Linked DNA regions of Homo sapiens. The protein of the gene in region 4 purifies or fractionates together with the protein of the main gene of each other region. This does not show direct contact. Each region holds a gene or a part of one and is shown on either strand. Other genes may lie near its edges.

Region 1 (3,500 bases), on a different chromosome or scaffold from region 4:
ATTTATCAAGTCACTTATTTTAATCCTCACAACAACCTCATAAACAGGGATTATTATTATCCCCATTTTACAATTGAAGAAACTGAGGGACAGAAATATTACATCATTAAGTCCAGGCATGGTGGAGCATGCCTATAGTCCCAGCTCCTCAGGAGGCTGAGGCCGAAGGATCATTTGGGTACAAGAGTAGTTTGAGGCTACAGTGAGCTGTGATCGCCACTGCACTCTAACCTGGGTGACAGAGGGAGACCCTGTCTCCAAAAAGAAAAAAAAGAAATGTTACGTATTTAGACTAAGGTCACACATCTTCCAGGTTGGCTACAGAGCCTGAGTTCTTCTCCGCAATGCTATATTGCTTAGGAATAGATGGGGATTTATTGCTTCTCAGCTTTTACCAGGACAAAGTAGTCTGCAAATAGATTTGCGAGATCTTGGTGTAAAGGTAATAACTGAGCCACCTAGAGAGAAGGAAAGTAGACAGTAAATAGAACTCCAGGAAACCCCAAAAACGAAGGACTAGGCCAAGGAAAAAGAGCAGAAGCCAGAAAAAGGAGCGAACTGATAGCACAGCCAGGGAGGCTGAAAGATCGAGACAAGTCATTGGAAAGCATGCATTGGATTTGGCAACTAAGAGGTTGTGAGTGACTTAAATCATTAAACAATATATATACTTCAAATGGATGTCTTTTACGACCTGTAAATGTTATGCCAATAAAACTGCATAAGATGAAAAAGATCTAATGTACAGCATGGTGACTGTAGTTAATAATACTATATTATATATATGAAATCTGCTAAGAGAGCAGATCTTAAGTGTTCTCACTGAAAAAGAAAAAAAGGAAGGTAACTATGTCAGTTGATGGATGTGTTACTTAACTGACTGTGGTAATCATTTCACAATGTATACGTATATCACATCATCACACTGCACACTTTAAATATATTCAGTTTTGTCAATTATACCTCAATAAAGATGAAAATTTTAATTTTCATTTTTTAAACATATTGTATAATATTTATTACATATATAGTGTGCAGTGTGATAATATATATTATATATATAAAAGCTAAAAAAACCTGGCCCCTGAAGTGTCATTGCAGCGGAGCTGACAGCTCATTTGTCAGTTTCTCAGCCTACCTCATCAGAAATTCTCAATGCAGGCCACCAGCATTTCTCTGTGCACCCATTCCTTTGTCATTCCATTGTAAAAGAGCCAAAGGAACAGCAATAAGAAAAATTAACTTGCTTTTTAAGCAGATCATCTCCCTGTCCCCAGAGTAAACTTCTCACACCACCTCCCAGGACTTCACTGGAACTTTTGACCTGTCCCCTATGCCCTCCACGGTGGCGCGGGCAACTCAGTGTCATTGGTTCACAGTCCAGCCTTCTTCCTTCACTTCTATTCCTTCTTTGTCTGAGTGGCCGGACGCAGCCTCCAGTCTGATGGTGTTTTCATCAACATTCACATGATCTTACATGTAAGCAAAGAAGAAGGCATGGATCTGATGCCTGATTCCTGCCAGCAATGAGTACCTGTGAAAATATACACAATAACTGTACCTTTGCTCAAACTGTACCTTTGCCCACAGCTTTCAGCTCATCACCTGATCTTTGTTCCTTGCAGGGATCTTACCGCTGTGGGCCTTGTAAGCCGGGGTATACTGGTGATCAGATAAGGGGATGCAAAGCGGAAAGAAACTGCAGAAACCCAGAGCTGAACCCTTGCAGTGTGAATGCCCAGTGCATTGAAGAGAGGCAGGGGGATGTGACATGTGTGGTAAGTTGTTTTTTGACTTCCTCTATCATTTTTCCTCTTCCATTTTTAACACCACCTCTCTCCAGTTTCTATGTGCTTCAGGGTAAAAGTACTCCAAAATGAAAGCATTGCAATTAAATGAGCATGGAGTGTAATAGGAACAGGGTCCACCGAGTTTGTGGGGAGCAGCCTGACATCCATCTAACCATCAGCTGCCTTTTCTCTCCCTCTTGGCTGGGGGGCAACCCTGTCCACTTGGGTACCTGGATGCCAGAGCCTCCGGTGAAGCCCCAGCTCCCAAGCACCTTCTATGGAAAGGCCCAGAAGCCAGCAGCAGGGAGGTGAAGGAACATTCTTCTCCCCTTTCCTTCTTCTGCCCCATCTACCTGCCTGTATAATGACAACATACCTGCTGTCATCTCTAACTGTCCTCATCCTTACAACTTCCAGAGTCTGTCTGCCTTGACGCTCCTGTTGGGGGTGGGCCATCGTGTAGAGGTGGGGACTGTCATAGTCCCTCCGGGAGAAACCTTCCGTCTTTGGCAGGTGACTGGCAGGGCCAGACGGCGCCATGCTGTATGTCTACCTCCACTCCAATCAGGGACAGCTCCATGAATGGTCACGCTTCCTGTGCATTCTCCAGCCACGGAGCTGGTCTGGGGAGGGGAGGCTGGGAAGAGAGTAGAGCAGTCACAGCAGGGCCTGACATGGGTCCCATGCTGAGCTTGTAGTGGGCCCTATGTGAAGGAGAGGGCATGCTCCTGCCATCCATTCCCAAATCCAAGGATCCAGAGTCCTCAGCCTGCCATCCATTCCCAAATCCAAGGATCCAGAGTCCTCAGCCTGCCATCCATTCCCAAGTCCAAGGATCCAGAGTCCTCAGCCTGCCATCCATTCCCAAATCCAAGGATCCAAAGTCCTGGGGATCCTAGGCACTGAAAAATCAGCAGACTTCAGCTGCCCCCCTCCTCTGCACTTCCTGGGATGCCAGGCCCTCGGCCGGTGGCCCGTCAGACTCTGGGGTCACTGGTTCACAGTGATCACCCCTGAGTAGCAAGATGGATTCTCGGAGCCCTTTTCCATCTTTATCTCAAAGTTATGCTTCTTTATCTTTATGCATACACAATTTTCCACAATGAGCCTACCACTTTTCAAATAGGAAAAATAAGAGTCAAAAATGAGTTAATAAATAAATATAATGAAGTCAGCCCTCCTTGGCAATACAGATATTCTGTAACAAGGTCAGATGGAAGAATGTGGTGTATCAGAGGGGGAATAACCCCAGCAATTTCCTGAATTCCTCATGGTTGGGCTTGTTTATTACCAAAAAGCAGTCATTGAGAAACAAGTGTATATCTCTGTTGAAATCCCCATTTTCTGTGAACAAATTGACAACTCCCCTGGGATGATGGGTGATGGGGCTCTTAATATGTTTTTGAATTTGTAATAAGGCACAACGACAGATGGTAAAGGATTAATAAACTTGGCGTGACTACTAAAATAATTGAATCTGCCAGAAAATAGCTCATTAAAAATGTATTTGTTCCTAGAGGACATTTTTTCCTCATTAAAGTGAGTCAAGGATCAGCCTCGTGGATCAGCCTTCCAGGCCTTCCAAAGGCCCTGCTGGGGCAAGTGAGCAGGAACCAGGAGCCCGGGAGGGTCTCTCTGGAGTTCTGCCTCCTAAATCCTGGTTGCAGAGGGAGAGCACAGATGATTGAGAATAAGCAGGCTGTGGCTGAG
Region 2 (3,500 bases), on a different chromosome or scaffold from region 4:
TGTGCAGGTAATTCCATCTGTGTACTCACTGCCATGCACTTGGTGTTCTAGGTCTAGGGACAGTGGGGCAGTGGGAGCAAGGGAAGTCAGGGGGAAGAAGTCTTTAGTATTGCATTTGTTATTAATGTGTCTCTTGGTTTGGCCCAGAGCCAGGGGGATATGTTTCTGAAGCCAGCTACTTCTTTGAGAAACACAGCAATTCAAATTTTATGAAGACTAATCTGCAGCTCCCCTTCTGTGCCAGGCCCTGGTCCAGAAGCTTATTCCTAAGTAAAATGTGCCATTTAGATGGAGTCTAATTGGAAATCTGATGGACTTTTTCCCCCAGGGGTGGCTGCTAGAGAGACGGCCCAAGCTCTGAAAACACTGGCCCAGGCCGCCCGTGGAGTGGCTGCATCGACAACCGACCCCGCGGCCGCCCATGCCATGTTAGATTCTGCTCGAGACGTGATGGAGGGCTCCGCCATGCTCATTCAAGAGGCCAAGCAGGCCCTGATTGCACCTGGAGATGCAGAGCGTCAACAAAGACTGGCTCAGGTGAGGCTAGGAATGAGAAATTGTGGTTGTCATGGTCATCATTAACGTGGACATGTGGTCGGGCTGTCTCCTGGGCACTTTTCCCTGATATGAACACTGACACAGCAGATGTTTTCAGAAACTTCCAAAGGTCATAACGATGCTGGCCATACATGATACTCACTTTTGTAAGTCTTGCCTAGTATTCTCCACAGTAATGTGTGATCTGCTTAATTCACAGTCAGCAGAGGGCATGGGGGCCTTTGAATTCTGTCCTTGGGAGTTTCAGAGCCAGGACATAACATGCTTGTTTTGGGCCTATGTGTGCTGAGCTATATTGCTGTTCCTTGCCAGGGAATGAGGTAGATCCGCTAGGGCTGGCCACTCAGAAGTTTTCAACCCTGGCGCTCTATTACTTCTTTAAATGATTCTTCGACTGCCTGATGGAACCAGTTGGCTAAGGAGCATCCAGGCAGAGTCCTGGACGTGGGGCTGGGAAGGAGATGGCTTAGATGAGAGGGAATGACACTCCCCACCTCCAAAGACCTTCCTTTTAATTGAGGATACCAAAGAATGCAAACAGGGAGCCACCAAACATTTCTAGGCAACGTGAGGGCAGCTCCAGGTTGTGCTCAGAGCACCCCACTTGCCCTTGGGCAGAGTGAGGTTTGGGAGGATGGCCCCATGAGTCACTGAGCAGAAATTAACCACAGGCCTTCTAATTGTGATCCAAAAAACTCAAGGTCTCCTTCCACCTCGGCGACCTCAGCAGGGCTCCCAAGAAGGGAGATATTTTCATTTCTCTTGGTATAAGAAATCTTTGCTTTAGAACCTGACCTCATGCTGGAGAGTTCTATGTTTGAATCACAAAACTGTGGCTTACCCTGGCTTTGGGGAGCAGGTGGGATGTGCTGTGTCACTGTGTCGGACCCTTTGCTGAGACAGAATATTAACCCCAATAAGAGGGTGGAAAACATCTCTGGGACAAGGGGCCTGGATGAGGTGATGTAAGACAGGTAAGAGTGGCAGGTGGATGCTGGTGGGTCATTTCCGTATCTGCTTCAGCTCTGCATGTTTCACTGCCCATTCCCAACAAATGTGCAGAAATGTTTGTACTTAAAGGTGCTTCTCTCTCTCCACGAATTCAGGTGGCTAAAGCCGTCTCACACTCCTTGAATAACTGCGTAAATTGCCTCCCTGGGCAGAAGGATGTGGACGTGGCCTTGAAGAGCATCGGGGAGTCCAGCAAGAAGCTGCTTGTGGATTCGGTGAGAGGTTCTTAGATTGAGAAAGGACACTGGGGGACTAGGCTCGCGTTAGGTGTGAGTGAAGTCTTCTTCTCTCCATGAGATCTCTGAGCAGCTAACCCTTCCTTTAGGAGTCCTGTTTTTCCCGCCAGTCTTTGTTTTCCATGTTTTGCTGTCTGATCAACAAAGTTCCCAGGTGGAGCTTTTAAAGTTTACTTTTTCTTTGAGCCCATGTTGCCATTTCCTCTCGGATCGTCCCGGTGAGACAGGCAAAGGGGTATGTGATCACCTGTCTTCTCATCAGGACATCTCAGATAGTGACAGTCAGGTGTTGGAAGGGTACGTGTGTCCAAGCCTCAGTGAGAGAGCGAGTAGTCTGAGGAATTTCACCTTGGGGCCTGTTCCCTTCCCTGCTTTGTGAGTCTGCTGAAGGAGGGTTTGTGCTGGTGCATCTTTGTTTCTTCTCTGCACAGGTATAGAGGCAATGTTTGTGGGTGATGAATAGAGTCTAGCTTAACTCCCTAGAACTTTTCACAAATGGTTATCAGTCTGCTAGATGACATTTAAAAGTTATTAGCAAAGGCCACTAATATAATTGGTGGCTATTAGTTTGGAAGAACGTGATTTGAAGTTTGAGAGCATCTGCCTTTTAGTTTACAAAGCTAAAACTTAGCTTTCATCTTAACAGAGACAAAATAGGGTAGAGTTTTAGAGAATGGACCCTGGAGTCGGATTGCCTTGGTGTGGATCCTGTCTCTGCCACTTAGGAAACCTTGAGCCCCTGTAGATAGCTTACATTTTTAGATCCACAGTGTCTAGCACTGAGCAGGTGTTTGATACATTTAAATGAATGAATGGATGTATATGTTGGTGGTCAAACCTATTAATAAAATGGGCTCAGATGACTCAGAGCCTTTTAATCGTGATGACTCAAATGCATCTCTGAAGAGTCTGTCTCCCTTCCACAATACCTTCCTTTTATCCCTCCCCTGCAAAGCAGAATGTCTCATGGGGTGTGCCGTCTGTTCCCCACAGCTACCTCCAAGCACGAAGCCTTTCCAGGAAGCCCAGAGTGAACTGAACCAGGCAGCAGCTGATCTGAACCAGTCTGCTGGGGAAGTGGTCCATGCCACCCGGGGCCAGAGTGGAGAGTTGGCTGCAGCCTCTGGAAAGTTCAGTGATGATTTTGATGAATTCCTCGATGCTGGCATTGAGATGGCTGGCCAAGCTCAGGTGGGTGTGGAGGTGGTTGTCTGGAGTTGACCTTAGCCTCTCCTCTCGGATGGATAATCCATCCTTGAGACTGACTGAACAAATAGGAAAAGGAACCTGGAAACAGGCAGGCCATGGTTGCATTCTTTTTGCTGCTTAGGAAGCTCATGCCCTCATGGGAATGGCATTCCCAAAGATGCTATCAGCTTATGCATGAGGTGCTGTTAGTAATAAAGAATAACTTCTCCCACGATCCTCCAGCAGAATTCATAGTCTTACTATTTGGAGGGAGGGTAGGAGGAGGGAGAATGTTTAACAAAGATTAGAACAGCTCTTCAAATGTGGGATAATACAATAAAAATATATATGTATTTGAGGTTTAATGGACCATTCAGATGGTCTGTGTCTAATACAGAGTGTCAAGTGATTAAAAATTACCTCCTTCAGATGAACAGATAAACCCCTTGTTTAGAACAAGGGAGCTTGACTGATCTGGTGTCAGCTTGCAGAGCTGTGTTTTTTGTT
Region 3 (3,500 bases), on a different chromosome or scaffold from region 4:
ACATATTTTCAAATTTAAAAAGATTAAAATGTACCAAAGCATCAACTCACTTATGAAGTACCTAATTAATTTCTGTTTTATTTTTATCCTAACCATGAGACTACTAAGGAAATATCCATTTTGGTTTAACAGACCAGGATATTCTAAAACTTTACTACTTTATAACTAGTTATTTTTGGTTGAGGACAGAATATGCAGATTCCACCCTATCACCAAAAATAATAATCATACTGAAGGTACATTCAATAACACTCTAAAATATGTATCACATCAGAAGCAAAGTACTTACTGCATCTTCCACATCAATGCATAAATGTGTTCCAGGTTCAGCCTTATTCTCAAGTTCATTCATTTTTTGCATTTCACTGTACAGACTACTCAGAGTTTTGTATGCTTCACGGCAGTTTTTGCATACTTCTGAATAATTTTTTGTCTGTAAAAGACTATGTGCATTCCCCTAAAATGACAAAGGCACATGTAATATATACAATAAACATTATATACAATATCTCTTTAATGTAAGCTATTTACGCTTCTAGAAGACGGGAAACAATATGGTGTGTTAAAGTGCTAAGCTGTGATGTTGAGTAGGTTACTAAATCACTCTGAGTCTCAGTTTTATCATCTATAAAATAAAACGACCTCTACCTGTATTATAAGTCCGAAGGATTAGAGACCCGGTATGTGAAGCAGATGGCAAACTGTTTGGAACTTTCTAGGTGCCTCTAAATTTTCAAAACTGCTGCATTAGCTAATGTTAACTGAGGATAACAATAATTCATATGCCAAATGACTAGTAACTAAATACAAAATTTCCTAAATTATCTCATCATCACAAACCCTCACTTATCTATCCTACTCTCACTGAATAAATAAAATAGGTTCCTGCCTATGCTGACTTGAACACCATAGTTTATCTTACTGAGACAGAACTTTTTAAATGGAAAGGGAAAAGGCACCAAAACTGCATCCCCACTCAACTCTCTTATCACAAGGCTCATAATCCAGGCCTTTCTAGTCAACAAAAAGGGCCAAATACCAAAGAATTGTATAACCTAAAATGAGGATAGTGGAGGTACATAAAATATTATGCTACTAAATCTCAATATTTTGTACTTCTAGACTGACACTTGTCTTTTCAAGAATAAGTTTGCTAAACAGTCAGTTCACACCTTTGCTTTCTATGCCCTTTATTCTTTACTTTGTAGTATGAAGAAAGAATATTAACTGAACATTGGGATGAAAGAGAAAAGAGAAAAATCAAAGTAATTACACTGATGTTGGCCCAACAATGTTACCCTCACCATCTGCTTGACAGAAAAACTAAGTCTCTCCTTAGTCTGCTACAAGAAATAGCCCATTGCTTGTTTTTCACAGAACAATTGTGCACTTAGTTAAAAATTGAGCACAGGGCTGGGCGCGATGGTTCACACCTGTAAACCCAGCACTTTGGGAGGCCGAGGTGGGCGGATCACAAGGTCAGGAGATCGAGACCATCCTGGCTAACACGGTGAAACCCCATCTCTACTAAAAATACAAAACTTAGCCGGGCGTGGTGGCGGGCACCTGTAGTCCCAGCTACTTGGGAGGCTGAGGCAGGAGAATGGCGTGAACCCGGGAGGCGGAGCTTGCAGTGAGCCGAGATCGCGCCACTGCACTCTAGCCCGGGTGACAGAGCGAGACTCCGTCTCAAAAAAAAAAAAAAAAATTGAGCACATAATCCATTTAACTAAAATTGTGCACATAATCTAGATGGGGAGTAATTTAACCTTTTTTTTTTTTTTTTTTTTTGAGACACGGTCTTGCTATTTTGCCCAGGCTAATTTCTAACTCCTGGGCTCAAATGATCCTCCCACCTCAACCTTCCAAAGTGCTGGGATTACAGGCAGGTGCCACCATACCTGGCCACAATTTTTATTCAAATTTAAAATGCACATATCTTTTAATAATGTGAAAGTTGCAGACATTAGGATGAAATCACCTTTTGACAGACCAAGACAAAATAGAGACAAAAAGAGTCCTTGTTTCCAAAGACTTTCTAAAAACCCCACAAGAAATCCTTTCACGCCCTTCATTGCAACTCCTGCTTTCACATGGTTTATCACTGCCATTCTTTAGGACTGCAGTAATTCAGATAAGATGCACTCAAAAGAACACTTGCCCAGTAATGGCATCGCCACCAATGAACTGACAACTTGGCTTTGAGCCTCAGGAACCAATGAACTCAGTTTCCAAGCAGCTTGTGTGAACCTCTCCCTTTTTGCTAATAAAAGCTTCCCTTTACCCTTCCCTCACTGGATGTACTGGTGGTTTGCCAGTGCATTCCAAATTACCATACTTCTTTCTTATTCCCTAATAAACTCATCATATTTGGAGATAATTTTCTCTAGTGTCTTTTTCTTAGGCTGCCAATATAGTAATTCTACTTCTAGAAATCTACCAAACTCATACAAGTACTCTAAGTTAAATGAAAAGAAGACTGTTTATGGTGTACAATTTAAAACTTATTATTTCCAGAATTTTCCATTTAATATTTTTGGACTGCAGTTGGCCACAGGTAACTGAAACTGTGGAAAGTGAAGCCATATATAAAAGGGATGACTTTATAGAAAAATTGCTATTTGAGTGTTACAACACACATCAGTCCACTAAAGGCTCTGAAGTCCTGTAGTAAAGCATTTCCCAACCTTAATGGAATACTAAACCCTTTCTGATAGGACATCTATTAACATGCTGCAGAACAAATTCTGAGAAATGTTCACCTAATTTTTTTTATTTTATTTTTTTGAGACAGAGTCTCTCTGCAACGCCCAGGCTGGAGTGCAATGGCACGATCTCAACTCACTGCAACCTCTACTTCACTACAGGCGTGCACCACCAAGCCTGGCTAAGTTTTGTATTTTTAGTAGAGACAGGGTTTCACCATATTGGCCAGGTTGATCTCGAACTCCTGACCTCAAGTGACCTGCCTGCCTTGGCCTCCCAAGGTGCTGGGATTATAGGCATGAGATACTGCACCTGGCCCAATTTTTATTATTCTCAAGGAAATTCATAATTCAGTGTTACCACATTTATTACAGAAGAAATCATACATGCTTATACCCTAAGCATGTGTACATCTACTATGGGGATTACTTACTTGTTATGTAAGTTTCAAAACTACATTTTAACCAGAGTTCCAACCTCGTCCTTCACCACGACCGGGCAAGTTCCAATACCAAAATTCAAGAGTCAGAGATAGAGATGGCAATAATCTACAAGGTTAAGATTCTTAAAGCTACCTTTTATTATCATAATTCAATACTCAAAGTTATCTTACTAAACAGTGCTTTTTAAGGTAGGTAAAACATACTTAAGCAAATTTCAGGCAAAGAATAAACTTCCTATAGACAGAATCATACTACACTGCAAAATACCTACGTAAGTCAGATTGAAAACCATTGTGTTTTAATTAAACAATCACACACCTCAATCAATGTTTTCACAATCATTATCTCACC
Region 4 (3,500 bases):
TTGCCTTGCACATCTCTCTCCCCAACTTGGTTCTTCCCCACTCAGGCCCACACCCCTCTTTTGTTCATTTCTTCCCTGCTTTTTGTTTCAAACGCACATTCCCATCGTGACTGGGTCTTTCTCTGGAGTTGGTATGTGGTTGGTGGGCTACTCTCCACCCAGTTTGTGTTCATGAAATTGTCTGGTTCACTGTCCACTGATTACTCAAGGGTCTTTGTTGCTGAGAAGACAGAACACTACCAAGGAGCCTGGTTGTTAAGGAGTTTCCTTAGAAATGCTAAGCCCAGGCCAGGCGTGGTGGCTCACACCTGTAATCCCAGCACTTTGGGAGGCTGAGGTAGGTGGATCACTTGAGGCCAGGAGTTGGATACCAGCCTGGTCAACATAGTGAAACCCCGTCTCTACTAAAAATGCAAAAATTAGCCAGGCATGGTGGTGGGCACCTGTAATCCCAGCTACTCAGGAGGCTGAGGCATGAGAATCGCTTGAACCTGGTAGGCAGAGGTTGCAGTGAGCCAAGATCGCACCACTGCACTCCAGCCTGGGCGACAGAGCAACACTGTCTCAAAAAAAATAAAATAAAATAAAAAAAGAAGTGCTAAGCCGAATGTTTAGGAAGGAGAACCCAGGCCTCCATTCTCAGCACCGTATTCCCTTCAGGCACTTTACTTCCAAGAAAAATCTTCTGTGAGGCACACAATCACTAAAGAAAAGTAAGAGGCAAACTAGCTTTGAAAGCAAATCCCATCCCTCAGCCCTCAGCAGGTTGCACAACCTCTAACACACGTGGCCTCTCTGTTGGTGCAGGTGACAAGACCACCTTCCAGCTACAGGTTCGCCAGGTGGAGGACTATCCTGTGGACCTGTACTACCTGATGGACCTCTCCCTGTCCATGAAGGATGACTTGGACAATATCCGGAGCCTGGGCACCAAACTCGCGGAGGAGATGAGGAAGCTCACCAGCAACTTCCGGTTGGGATTTGGGTCTTTTGTTGATAAGGACATCTCTCCTTTCTCCTACACGGCACCGAGGTACCAGACCAATCCGTGCATTGGGTAAGTGACCAGTTGCCCTTCTGTTGGGTACTTAAGGGTGGGAGAATGGAGAAGCAGGAAAATTTAGCTCAAAGAAAGAATTAAGGAAGGCATGGTTAGGAGGGGTGGCCAGGCTTAGGCGTTTAATTTGATTAATGATAAGCATACATTCTCTCCTTTCCTGACGTGTGAAGAAGTGAGTGAACTGTCACAAGGTTGTAAAGATAAAATGATCACAACCCCTTGATTTTCCTGCCTGCCATGCACAGCACCATTTGCTCACATTAATAGAATTCAGAAAATGTCCTCAGGGAGTGATGGATCCAGATTATCAGGGAGGCAGCAGGCAGGGCAACTTAAACTTTCCCCTTGCTTGTAGTAACTGAGGTGCTTTGGGAGAAATGAATTCAAAATTTGTCCCTGTTGTTTTTCTATAAATAACTATAACTTATTTTCACATAATTAGATTAAAATCCTATTTTAAATGTAAGAATTTTTTTTTCAACATAAACACCTGAACTAGAAAAGATTTGACATATTATTAGAAAACAGGTGTCTCTAACTGCTGCCAGATTCTATAATAACAAAGTGTATAATGGCTCAAACTTGCTGGAAGTTTATTTCCTGCTCCTCAAGTCCAACTGGGTCTCTTCATCCATGGAACTTCTCCTGCAAGCAGTGACTCAGGGACTCAGGTGCTTTCCATCTTCCAGGCTTTACCATCTTCCACACATGGCTCCTAAGGTCATGCTGCCTAGAGGGTCATGCATAGGAGGATAGGCCTTTGCCATGCCCGCTCCCACATGCTATTAGACGGAACAGGACTGAGCCAGGAGGCTGGGAACTAGTGTAGCTGTAGGCCCAGGAATCAGAAGAAATAGGATTAGTGAGCAGGTCTCTGCCATGGGACGTTTGTATGCATGCTGGGGTGGGTGGTTGTATGAGGGGATTGCATTCTTCAGCCCATGCAACACAACCTCTACTAGGTTGGTTTCTTTTCTTTTTAGTCTTTCAGGAGTTTCTTTAAATGTCAAGATTATGCAAGTGACTGCAGTGAGTGGTAACTTCCAACTCTTGCTTTCCTCATCTCCACATTTAACTTTAGTGAGGGTTTGTGTTGTAAGGTCCAAAACTAGTCATGAGATAGGAAATAACTAAGACTTAAGTTTTTACTAAGTGTCAAGCCCCATACTAAATATTTTCTGTGGATTATCTCATTTAAATCTCATAACAATCTGTTGAGGTCTCTAAGGTAAGTGTAAGCCAGATTTTAGAGATGCAGAAACTGAGGCCTAGAGAGAATAACTTACCCAATATTATACAAACAGCAAGGGGTAGAGCTGGAATATGAATACAGACAAACTACTTTTAGAGTCTGCATTTGCATTTTTTTTTGAGACGGAGTCTTGCTCTGTTGCCCAGGCTGGAGTGCAGTGGTGCAATCTCGGCTCCCTGCAACCTCCGCCTCCCGGGTTCAAGCCGATTCTCCTGCCCCAGTCTCCTGAGTAGCTGAGATTATAGGTGCCTGCCACCACACCTGGCTGATTTTTGTATTTTTAGTAGAGATGGGGTTTCACCATGTTGGCCAGGCTGGTCTTGAACTCCTGACGTCAAGCGACCCATCCACCTCAGCCTCCCAAAGTGCTGGGATTACAGGCATGAGCCACTGCATCCGGCCTGCGTTTGCGTTTAATATAATGTCTTCTTCCCCATTCAAATCACACTACAACACAGACACTTTACCTTAGGCTGAGTAATAATACCTGTCCCTAAACCACCCTACCCCCATGTCCTAGGGGCTTACCTGAGGATCATGGTAGGTTATGCTGCAGTAACGTAGAGTCTCCAAATCTCAGTGGCTCAACACAATGAACGTTTTTTTTTTGTTGGTTTTTTTTTTTTTTGCTTGTGCAACATCTGATGAGGGCTGAGCTGCTTTCCTTGGCAGCTCTCCATGCAGTAACTCAGGGATCCAGCTCCTTCCATCTTGTGATGCCATTCTCAATTCTTGGTCTTCCAGCTGCCACCAAGGGGAGAGAGCTGTTCTTAAATCCCTGAGCCCTCCCCTCTCCACAAGTCCTCTTTGGTAGCCTTCAGAGCTCCTAGCTCCAAGTTGGGCTGGGTGATAGGAGCAAGTTAGTGTGCTGGTGGCATAGGCTCTTCTGAATCCCTCCAGATCCTTCTGTATACTCTCCCAGAAGCTGACTTAGATCTTTTCAGGTATTGGGAACTGACACTGGTGGAAAAACAGACAAGAAAAAGTTTTAAATACAAATGAACTCTAAATTCTTTAACCACGAAGAGGCACTAGGCATCATCATTTGCTGGGTTTAGCTTCCTCCTGGCGACAGGTGGCCACAGGGACTATTACTACTTTGATTCTGTCTCCAAGGCCCTTTTCAGCTAAGTCTGGGTGTCAAATGTTTTTGTTGAAATTTTGCTGCTTACCAGGAGCAACAGCATC
Region 5 (3,500 bases), on a different chromosome or scaffold from region 4:
TCACTTATGTATTCCCAGAGTTCCGAATAATGTCTGGCACATAATAGATTTGTTGCATAATTGTTGTAATGAACACTGGTGTACATCTATCTTTTCACAATTGTGTGAGCCAAACGAATTCTTAGGAAATAAGTATACATTTAAATTTTTGAAGGATGACTAAATTTGCTCTAAAGTAAGTTTGTAACAATTTACATTTCCAAAGTGTACTCTTCTCTCCACCCCCTAAAACTGTCCTGGTTATGTTGCCAGTTTTTGTAATGTGTTTCCTGTCTGAGAAATTGTATCTCATTTGAATTTGCCTTTCCTTGATTGCCGATGTGAGTATCTGTGCTGGTGTTGATGCCGGTTGGTGTATTCTCTCAGGTTGCAGGGACTTGGCTCTTGCTTTTTTATTGACTTAACACATATACTTATTTTTAGATGTTGACTATCACGTTGCAGATGATTTCACCTGGTTTGACTTTCATTTTTTCACATTTTTCTTGGTGCTTTTTTCCAAAGCAATTTTTAAGCAGCATGTAGTCATGTTTGGCAGCCTTTTCCTAAATTGTCTCAAGTGCCTGCCAGTTTTTTAGAAAGTATTTGAACCTTTGAAGAACCCCTGGAAGCGTAGACGTTTTTATGCTAATAAATACTTTAGTAATTCCTACTTAAGGGAACTTCACCTTTTGTACTCTGCTATATTAAATTTCTTTGAGGTAGAAATGGGGGTGGTGTCAGGGTTAGAATGCTGTAATTCTAATCTCTAATCCTGTATGCGAAACATTTAGTGCTGGATTACAACATCTGAGATGAATCGAAATACTTCGAGCTTTTATCCCTTCCTTCTTGGGCCTCATTAATCACTTCTCTTCCTCCAGTTTCTCCTTGATGCCTACCAGTTTGTTCATTCTGCCCTATCTACAAGAACCTCTTGCCTCCTGCCAGCCTCTACTAGCTTCTTGCCTTCACCAGCCTTTCTTCTAGTCAGACACTTACTGGTAGCTGTTATCTGCCCTCCCCATGATCCTGTTCACTCAGGCTTCCTGTCATCCACCTGCAATTGCTCTCTCATGGGCTTGGCCAACAGTTCAGTTCTCAGATGTGGGCCCCACCTGTGGGGTTTGTGTGATTGGCAATTCTACTTCTGAAACTTCCCTTCCTTGGCTGCTGAACCACTGTGTTTGCTTTTCTATCTGCTGTTTTTTACCACCTTCCTTCCTGATCCCTGAAGGTCAGTATTCCTTAGTATTATTTTGATCACATTATTTCTGTGGCTTCTGATTTGCCCTTCCAGGTATCTTATTTCTTGTTGTGAACCACATTTACCCACAGGAGTCCTCTTTTGACCACTGATGGACTCCTGTCCTTCCAGCTCCCCTGTCTCTTTAAATGGTCCCACAATTCTTGAAATCATCCAGACTGAGAAATGTGTAAATTATTTTTTACTCATCACTTCTGACTCCTCTGCTCACTTTTAAATAGCTTACTAACTGTTTCCGAACTCTTCTCTCCTCCAAAGTGTAAGCTCCATCTTTATGAGGCCAGCATAGGACAAAAGATGAGGTTAGCATGGATGGATAGTAGACCAGGAAAGGGGCCGTAAGATGAGGACAGGTGAGCAAGTTCATGCTTCTTATTGCTCAGTTTCTCCCAGAGATAAGATGGTTCCTCCCATTTAGGAATAAGGATTTATGAAAAGACTGAAGGTCGAGTTACAGAGTAAAGGATGTAGAGAGGAGGGCCTTTTCTGGAGTTCTGAATTAGTGCAGACATTGTACTAAGACCAAATCTCTGACCATTCAAGGCCCTTTTTAGGTCACATTAAGGCTTTCCATTCTTAAAAACCAGAAAGCAAATCCAGTGCACAGTTTGAGGTCGGGATATTTTCTGCTCACGTTGCTCTTGTTCTCTCTTCCCTGAATGGCTCAGGTACTGAGGTGAGACCAAACAAAACTGTGGCCTGCCTGGTGCCTGTGAGAATGCCCACCATGCAATGAGCATTTGAGTGCTAGGGTTTTAATTGATTGACTGATGAATGCATTCGTATTTCAACTTCAGCCCAGTTCTTTCTCCCCTCAAGCCCCATCCCCCACACTACTGCCTGCTTGATAGGTCCGATTGTGGGATTTCACTGCTGACTGCTGGCTGCCTGTTGAATGAAATACAGATCCCCAGGTCGCTAGCCTGGTGTTGATGGAACTCTCCACTTTGTAATTCCAATTTTTGTTTCCTTATCCAACTGGATGTCTTAGATTCCAACCTTTTGAATTTCTTATTCTCAAAATGCACCCCATGTGTCCTCTCTGTGCCTTTGACGAGGTTTTGTTTTTTTTTCTTTCTTTCTTCCTTTTTTTCCATCTGGGGTACTTCTCCCTTCTCTCTGCTTTTAAGACTCCTGCCTGTTCTCCAGGGTCTTCTCATGCCTGTAGCTTCTCTGTGGCAATTACCCTTCTTGAGGCTGATTGTGGTGTGATTTCCATTTTAGCTGTTGTGCTGGGGCTATCGTTAGTCTTCCTGCTGCTTTGTACATTGAGGGTAGTGGTGCATTATTGCTAATGTTATTTTTATTCTGTACAGAGGATCCTCAAAATTCAAGTATAAATACCTTTCTAGCAGTTTTGTAAATTTTTTTTTTTTTTTTTTTTTTTTGAGACGGAGTCTTGCTCCGTCACCCAGGCTGAAGTGCAGTGGTCTCAGCTCACTGCAAGCTCCGCCTCCCGGGTTCACGCCATTCTCCTGCCTCAGCCTCCCCAGCAGCTGGGACTACAGGCGTCCACTGCCACGCTTAGCTAATTTTTTTGTATTTTTAGTAGAGACAGGGTTTCACCATGTTAGCCAGGATGGTCTCCATCTCCTGACCTTGTGATCCACCTGCCTCGGCGTCCCAAAGTGCTGGGATTACAGACGTGAGCCACCACACCCGGCCGCAGTTTTATAAATTTATTTGACAGTAACTTTCGTCATCAGTTTGATTATTGACATTTGTATGATTTCCAATATATTTCTTACAAGATGAGCTAGAATTGGCTACAATAACATACGCAGTTTGCTAAAATTGATCCTGGTTTTGTCATTCTCTCAGATTCTGGATGAAATTGAAGAACATAACATCAAAATCTATCACTTACCTGATGCAGAATCAGATGAAGATGAAGATTTTAAAGAGCAGACTAGACTTCTCAAGGTAAGAACTGGCTTCAGATCCACAACATAAATAACTCCTGTTTACTGTTGTCCATGTTGAGGTGAGAGAGATTGCCTGGGTATGTTCAGTTACGAGAGTATTTTTGCTTTCAATATATTTTAAGACCTCATGCAGTGGCTCATGCCTATAATCCCAGCACTTTGAGAGGCCAAGGCAGATGGATCAGTTGAGGCCAGGAGTTCCAGACCATCCTGGCCAACATGGTGAAATCTCATCTCCATCAAAAATACAAAAATTAGGTGGATGTGGTGGTGCACACCTGTAGTCCCAGCCACTCGGGAGGCTAAGGCAGGAGAATCACTTGAACCCA
Region 6 (3,500 bases), on a different chromosome or scaffold from region 4:
TGAGAAAATTTAGAAATTAGACAAAATTAAAATGGTACTAGGAAGAATAATTTTAATTGTCTTGATATTTCTACTTGAAAGCAGGTGTATTTAGTCTTTATGTTTCTTTTTAGTTTTCTTTGGGGAATAAGTATGCAAATATTTAAGAATACATAATTGTATTTCTGTATGTATTTTTAAGTATTTGCATACTCATTCCCTATACTAAGCGTAGTTTTATATCCTTTTAAAAGAATACTGTGTAATGATAATTTTTCTCAGTAAAATTCTTTGAAAAAAGATATCCAGAATTAGAAAGGTTAAAAAGGATATAGGAGATCAGTTGGTGAAATATTAATATTTTCAGATGAAGAAACTATGGCTCAGAGAAGGAAAGTATCTTAGCCAAGGTCGCATAGCCAGGAAAGTTGACATAAATACTTAGTGATGGCAGAGAGTCCCAGGATGCCACAGTGAGGAAGGCTGAGGGGCAAGCCCTTGGCAATACTCCAAGATCTAAGGTTAAGTGTTACAGGAATTTCATTTTACCAGAGTGCCCATGCCTACCAAGAACTCAAGAGACCAAAATACAAGCTAGAAAGCCAATTTACTAACTTACAGTAAGAATTCTAGCTGCCAAGAGATCTAACCTGTAATCCTCCTGTAAATGTATTCTCATCCTATAGAAACATCTAATATTAACCAGAAGGTTTGGTGAATCCATGGACCCAGGAAAAGTGGAGTTAATGTTAAGATTGTTTTGTTAATGTTTAAATTTTAATTAATTTAAGATACATCATACACACTCATGGAAAAAGTACAAAGCATGCAAAAAATGTTAACATGAAAAGTCAATCTTCCTTTCATATCTTGTGCCTGTCCCAGAACAACTGTTCTTTTGGAAGGTCTTAGGAACCACTGTCTCTGTATTAGTTTCTTGTTGCTGCTGTAACAAATGACCTCAAACTTACTGGCTTAACACACAAATTTATTATCTCAGAGTTGTGAAGGGTAGAAGCTCTAAAATCAAGGTGTTGGCAGGGCTATATTCATACTGGATTTGTTAGGGGATAATTTGTTTCTTTGCTTTTTCTAGCTCCTAGAGGCATTCCTTGGCTTGTGACTCCTTCCTTCATCCTCAAAGTCAGCAGCATAGCATCTTCAAATATCTCTCTCTCTCTGTGATCTCTTCTTCCTTTATCACACATCCTCTGACTTCTTCTCTAACTTTCTTGCCACCTCCTCATAAGGACCCTTGTAATTACATGAGACCCACCAGATAACCCAGGATAATCTTCTCATCACAAGATCCTTAGCTTAATGACATTGCAAAATATCTTTTGCCATGGAAGAGAACATATTCACAGTTTCTGAAGATTAGGACATGGACATATTTGGGTGTCATTATTTTGCTGACCACAGTCTCCAAACTACATTTGAGAGATGAATGACTCCTTCTTCTCTAGACCAGACTAATAATGTGTTCTGATGAAAAATAATGTATTCTTGTTATTAAGATGCTTATTTATATTTGTTTACCAATTTGTTCAGTACATTATGAAATATATCCTTCTGGAAAATGTTTAAAAGATAAGGTATAAATAAATGTAAATAGAAGTTGTCATTTTCCCCACAGCCAGTGGATTGCCTGCTACACTCATGGTGAGTACCGAGCCCTCTTTAGAGACCACTGTCCTAAACTATCCTTTTTCTACATTCAGTGCAAATCACTGTCCTGAACATTCCTTTCTTCTGTCAGTAGGACATGCTATTTATATGGTACAAGGCACTTGAACTCCAGCATAATGAGGTTGTTAACAGTATAGGTATTTATGTCAGTCAAACAGTTCAAATCCCAGCTCCACAACTACCACCTGTCCAACCTCCATCACATTGCTCAACCCCATGGGCCTCATTTTTTTCACTGGCAATATGGCATAATGTCTGTCTCATAGGGTTGCTTGTGAGGATTAAATATTCAGTGTGAGGCTGGGTGCAGTGGTTCATGCCTGTTATCCCAGCACTTTGGAGGCTGAGGCGTGCGTATCACTTGAGGCCAGGAGTTTGAGACTGGTCTGGGCAACATAGCAAGACCCTGTCTCTACTAAAAATACAAAAAATTGGTGGTGCATACCTGTAATCCCAGCTACTTGGGAGGCTGAGGCATGAGAATCGCTTCAACCTGGTAGGCGGAGGTTGCAGCGAGCCAAGATCGTGCCACTGCACTGCAGCCTGGGTGACCGAGCGAGACTCTGTCTCCAAAATAAATAAATAAATAATGTTCAATGGAATTTTAATAACAATATGACATTAGATTTATACTCTTTGGAGTTTAATACTAGGATCTTTCGTTGGATTTAGTCTTCTTACCTGTGCTCAGCACCCACTTCCTGACTTTTTTTTAGGTTGGTTACCCCTGTTTAAGGTTGCTTTCATTCTTTGTGTGTTGATTCCTTTGAATTTATTTCCTGGGGCTGCTGTAACACAAAGTACCACAAACTTAAAACCACGGAAATTTTCATTCTCTCTCAGTTCTGGAGGGCAGAAGTCTGACAAATCAAGGGGTTGGCACAGCCATGCTCTCCTTGGAGGCTCTAAAGGAGAACCCTTCCTTGCCTCTTCCTAGCTTCTGGTACTCCAGGGATTCCCTGGCTTATGACAGCATCACTCCCATCTCTCTCGTCTTCACATGACCTTCTCTGTGTGTGTCTCTCTGTGACCCCTTCTCTTAAGGACACCAATCATTGGATTTAGGGCCTACCCTAAATGTAGAATGATTTTGTCTCAAGAGCTTAACTAATTACATCTGCAAGGACACAATTTCTAAACAATGTCACAGTCTGAGGTTCTGGGTGGATGTGATTTGGTGGGGAGAGGGGGTAGTGATACTATGCTACTCATTATACTTCCCTCTTGCAGAATTGCTTTACTCCCAAGTTCTGGGAGGCTCCTGCCTTTGTCTCAATGTACATGTGTCAGAGCTCAGGGCCTTGAGAATCTAAGGGCTGGGGGAACACAGACAACCTGGAAATCAGTAGTTTTGCCTTGTCTAACCCCATCCCCTTGCCACTGGCATGGCTACTTTTCACAAGGAAGAAAAATCACAGTCAACTTGTTCTCAGTGTTGCCATTCTGTGTATGACACTGTAGCCCTTGGAGTGCTTCCCATTTGGGCTTTTAGCATCTTCAGAAGAAGAAGAAGAAGAAAGAAAAAAGTGCTGTTTGGTATCACGCAGCAGCATTTGTGTTTGCAAAATGTCTCTCCCATTGGACGATTCCAATTTAAAATACAGATTAGCTCTGACAAAACTGACCCAGGCTGGCTTTTCTGTTTGATAGTTTCAATTTCAGGCTTATTCATCACAAATGATTGTAATACAACAGGATTTTGACAGAACAAGGGTAGGAGTTTTGAATTCTTACCTGCAATTTTCAGCTCTAGGGGATAATTGCAGAGAGAAAAACAACAATAACTTAGTTCTAGGATATGAAAACATGCTGAATTTCCCCTTTGTTCCTAG
Region 7 (3,500 bases), on a different chromosome or scaffold from region 4:
AAAATACTTTAAACACTAGGATTAGAGCTTGGCAAGATGCACACTGGGAAAGAGGCATACGTAACTGGACAGCTCCCTTATACCCTGGCTTAGTGCTCCCTGGGGAAGGTGTGTGCTTATTTGGTGGAATGGTGCCTATGCAGTTGAAATCCTTAGTTTTTCCCCTTGAGGGCTCACAACTGAATTCATGGAAATTAATGCCTACATGATGCATCCTCATTGCATTCATAGTGAAATACATTAACATTATAAGAAATTTTTTTAAATCTTGGGGGTGGAGTAGGAAACAATGTTAAAATCTTATTAAAGTGAATTAAGTTTTGGTTAAATCTGATAGTAAGTTTACTCAGTGTTTAAAACACTGTTCATGATCCATAGGAAGTGAATTAAATTGTATCAGTTTCTTAGCAAATTTTAAGTTCTTTAAAAGTGGAGGACAGTACTCAAGTTTTACTGTAATCCTGTGACAGCTAATAAAGTATGAGCTATTCCTTAGAGTATGTGCTATTTGCTGCCTTTTGTTTTTGTTTTGCTGCTATGTTTTATACCCAGTTTTTTAAAGTAAAAAACTGTTTGTTTCCAACTAGAGTTAACTTATTTATAGAGATGCTAAAAATATGTTTATTCAATTACTTATAAAAGGCCTTGTTGGAAATGTCTAATCGCTCGCTATTGAAGAGAATGGAAAGAAAATATGTAAAATTTTACCTGTTATCTTTGGCTCTTAATTTTTAAAAGTTTCAAACATCTAAGTTCAAGAGTAATTGAGTGAACACTGCGTAATCTTCATCTAGACACCAGTTAGTATTTTGCCATTTGAATTTTCTATACACACAAACATACACATGTTGGGGAGCAGTTGGATGAAGTTTCAGACTTACTCATAACCTTTGATTCCTAAATATTTAAATATGTATCACCTAAGAACAAGAAACTTCTCTTGCATAATTACAGTATAGTGATCACATTCAGGAAATTCAACATTGATTCACTTCTGTCATCTAATATGCATCCATTTTCAAAATTTGCCAGTTGTCCCAATAATGGCCTTTGTTTTTTTCCCATCCAGAATCTCATTTCGCATTTAGTTGAAAGGGCCTCTTAATCTCCTTTGATATACAGAACAGCCACCAAGTGTGGAGCTACAGGAGATTATATAATAAATGGCTTATTGACATTACATTAAGATACATGTAAAATGATAGTATCTGTTTGTAAACTTTATGGCCACCCTGTAGAACAGTTCCTCAGCCTTGGTCTTTTAAGACATTGTTTAACCTTTTTAAAATAAGGTTCTTAGTATCAGTGCAAATTTCACTTCAGAGTGATTTTTTTTTCTTTTGAGACAGAGTTTTGCTCTTGTCACCCAGGCTGGAGTGCAGTGGCACGATTTCAGTCCACTGCAACCTCCGCCTCCCAAGTTCAAGTGATTCTCCTGCCTCAGCCTCCCAAGTAGCTGGGATTACAGGCACCCGCCACCACGCTAATTTTTGTATTTTTAATAGAGATGGGATTTCACCATGTTGGCGAGGCTGGTCTTGAACTCCTGACCTTAGGCGATCCGCCCACCTCGGCCTCCCAAGGTGCTGGGATTACAGGCATCAGCCACCACGCCTGGCCAAGAGTGATATTTTTATAGGTTCTTTTTCACATACTTTATTTTTAAAATTTAGTTTACTTCTTAGCTTACTATTAAATAAGCTGTTAATAATAGTTTTAGACATCATTGGATGTAGGTTTCCCATAATGTCAGCTGTTCTCAGACTGTAGTAGGTGCTGATGGAGGCACAGATTATTAAGAAATAACAGGTTGCCTAGTGTGTCAGAAGATCTGGATTCAACTTCTGGCTCTGTCTGCTACTTTACTGGTTAGTATGACCTTTGGACAATGAATCCAACCTGAGTGGGTTTTGACTTCTATAAAATAGAAATTGAAAAAAATTTTCTTGGGGCGGGCGGGGTGGCTCACGCCTGTAATCCTAGCACTTTGGGAGGCCGAGGCAGGTGGCTCACGAGGTCAGGAGATCAAGACCATCCTGGCTAACACGATGAAACCCCGTCTCTACTGAAAATACAAAAAATTAGCTGGGCGTGGTGGTGGGCGCCTGTAGTTGCAGCTACTCGGGAGGCTGAGGCTGGAGAATGGTGTGAACCCAGAAGGGGGAGCTTGCAGTGAGCCGGGATCGCGCCACTGCACTCCAGCCTGGGTGACAGAGCAAGACTCCATCTCAAAAAAAAAAAAAAGAAAAAGAAAAACATTTTCTCACAGGTTTTGGTGAGAATTAAATGAGATAATACATATATATTGATACTACATGTATATATACTTTATATAAACTATTTGTGTTATGCAAATGAGAGTGGATACTTCTCTGTGGCATTGAGTCTCTGAGTATATGAAAGTAGGAAGGAAAAAAAGGAAAAGTAGGTTAAAATATAATCTAGTATATTTAATAAGTTCCAGCTTTACTGGTGGGGAATTGCACTCCTCAAAAAAAGCTTAGTTTAGGATTGCTTTCTGTTCCCACCCTCTAAACAACAAGAAAAAATAGCTGTCATTTTACTTTCCCGCCAACTTCCAAACACACACCTGCCTCTGCAGTGTAAGAGAGCTATTTAAGTACCATTTTAATAAGATTTCTGAAATGCAGGGGACCAATAAGTGGATGATGGTATTCCAGGTATTTGAAAAATCTAAAACCATGAAAGCATCAGTAGTAAATTAATTCTCTACTTAATATATTCTATAAGAGCAGTGTTTTTAGTTCATTTATAGCAAAGGCACATGAAAACATTGGGCCTATTTAGAAACTAATGAAAGTAGTTTCAGAAAAAAGCTAATGTATGCAGTATTCCTATTTAAATAATTATTTTACTGACAAATTAATGCTTATGCCATGGAACATTTAAAATTGGTATATATGCCCAGTGAGAAGTAAACAAATACATCTGAAAGTGTATTTTTAAATAATTCTTTTATTTTGTAATTAAGAAGTGTGACTTCTGCACTTGGGTTTGTGGTTACAAATTCATATTCGTTATAATTCATTCTTTAACAAATTAGTTGCATAATTACTATATAATTGTTTTTCCTGTTAATTTTTTTTCTTAGTGTCAGGCTCATTGAGGTCTGATTGACATATAGTAAAATTTATCCTTCTTAGTATAATATTCTGAGTTTTGACATGTAAAACTACCACAGTCAAGATAGAAAACTTTTACAGTACTCCCAAAAGTTTCCTTTGTAACCGTCTCATCGCCTCAAACCCAGATCCTAAAAACCAGTGATAATTTGCCTTTTCTAGAATGGCCTGCAAATGGAACCATTCAGTTCTAGCTCTTTGAATCTGGTTTCTTTCACTTAGCATAATACATGTTAGCTTCGTTCATGTGTTTGTATCAATAGTTTTTTATCACTGAGTAGTAGTCCATTGAATGGATTATTTCACAGTTTGTCCATTTAGCAATTGAAGGGCATTTGGGTTACTCCCAGTTTTAGG

The links.
Region 1: the proteins of ITGB5 (region 4) and THBS4 purify together in Homo sapiens (co-immunoprecipitation; one study listed by IntAct). This does not show direct contact.
Region 2: the proteins of ITGB5 (region 4) and TLN2 purify together in Homo sapiens (co-immunoprecipitation; one study listed by IntAct). This does not show direct contact.
Region 3: the proteins of ITGB5 (region 4) and OSTM1 fractionate together in Homo sapiens (co-fractionation; one large-scale study listed by BioGRID). This does not show direct contact.
Region 5: the proteins of ITGB5 (region 4) and SEPTIN2 fractionate together in Homo sapiens (co-fractionation; one large-scale study listed by BioGRID). This does not show direct contact.
Region 6: the proteins of ITGB5 (region 4) and TIMD4 purify together in Homo sapiens (affinity purification with western blotting, with the first as the bait; one study listed by BioGRID). This does not show direct contact.
Region 7: the proteins of ITGB5 (region 4) and FERMT2 purify together in Homo sapiens (co-immunoprecipitation; one study listed by IntAct). This does not show direct contact.

What each region holds. Positions count from the first base shown.
Region 1 is NC_000005.10:80,066,348-80,069,847, forward strand, and holds part of THBS4 (thrombospondin-4 isoform a precursor), read left to right. Parts: intron 1-1; exon of another isoform or gene 2-1,534; intron 1,535-1,625; coding exon 1,626-1,778; intron 1,779-2,166; exon of another isoform or gene 2,167-2,427; intron 2,428-3,500.
Region 2 is NC_000015.10:62,736,550-62,740,049, forward strand, and holds part of TLN2 (talin-2), read left to right. Parts: intron 1-328; coding exon 329-537; intron 538-1,664; coding exon 1,665-1,784; intron 1,785-2,798; coding exon 2,799-2,996; intron 2,997-3,500. UniProt on the Homo sapiens protein: As a major component of focal adhesion plaques that links integrin to the actin cytoskeleton, may play an important role in cell adhesion. Recruits PIP5K1C to focal adhesion plaques and strongly activates its kinase activity.
Region 3 is NC_000006.12:108,050,742-108,054,241, forward strand, and holds part of OSTM1 (osteopetrosis-associated transmembrane protein 1 precursor), read right to left. Parts: intron 458-3,500; coding exon 290-457; intron 1-289. UniProt on the Homo sapiens protein: Required for osteoclast and melanocyte maturation and function.
Region 4 is NC_000003.12:124,845,866-124,849,365, reverse strand, and holds part of ITGB5 (integrin beta-5 isoform a precursor), read left to right. Parts: intron 1-807; coding exon 808-1,057; intron 1,058-3,500.
Region 5 is NC_000002.12:241,339,925-241,343,424, forward strand, and holds part of SEPTIN2 (septin-2), read left to right. Parts: intron 1-3,067; coding exon 3,068-3,169; intron 3,170-3,500.
Region 6 is NC_000005.10:156,928,727-156,932,226, reverse strand, and holds part of TIMD4 (T-cell immunoglobulin and mucin domain-containing protein 4 isoform 1 precursor), read left to right. Parts: intron 1-3,500. UniProt on the Homo sapiens protein: Phosphatidylserine receptor that plays different role in immune response including phagocytosis of apoptotic cells and T-cell regulation.
Region 7 is NC_000014.9:52,941,051-52,944,550, reverse strand, and holds part of FERMT2 (fermitin family homolog 2), read left to right. Parts: intron 1-3,500. UniProt on the Homo sapiens protein: Scaffolding protein that enhances integrin activation mediated by TLN1 and/or TLN2, but activates integrins only weakly by itself. Binds to membranes enriched in phosphoinositides.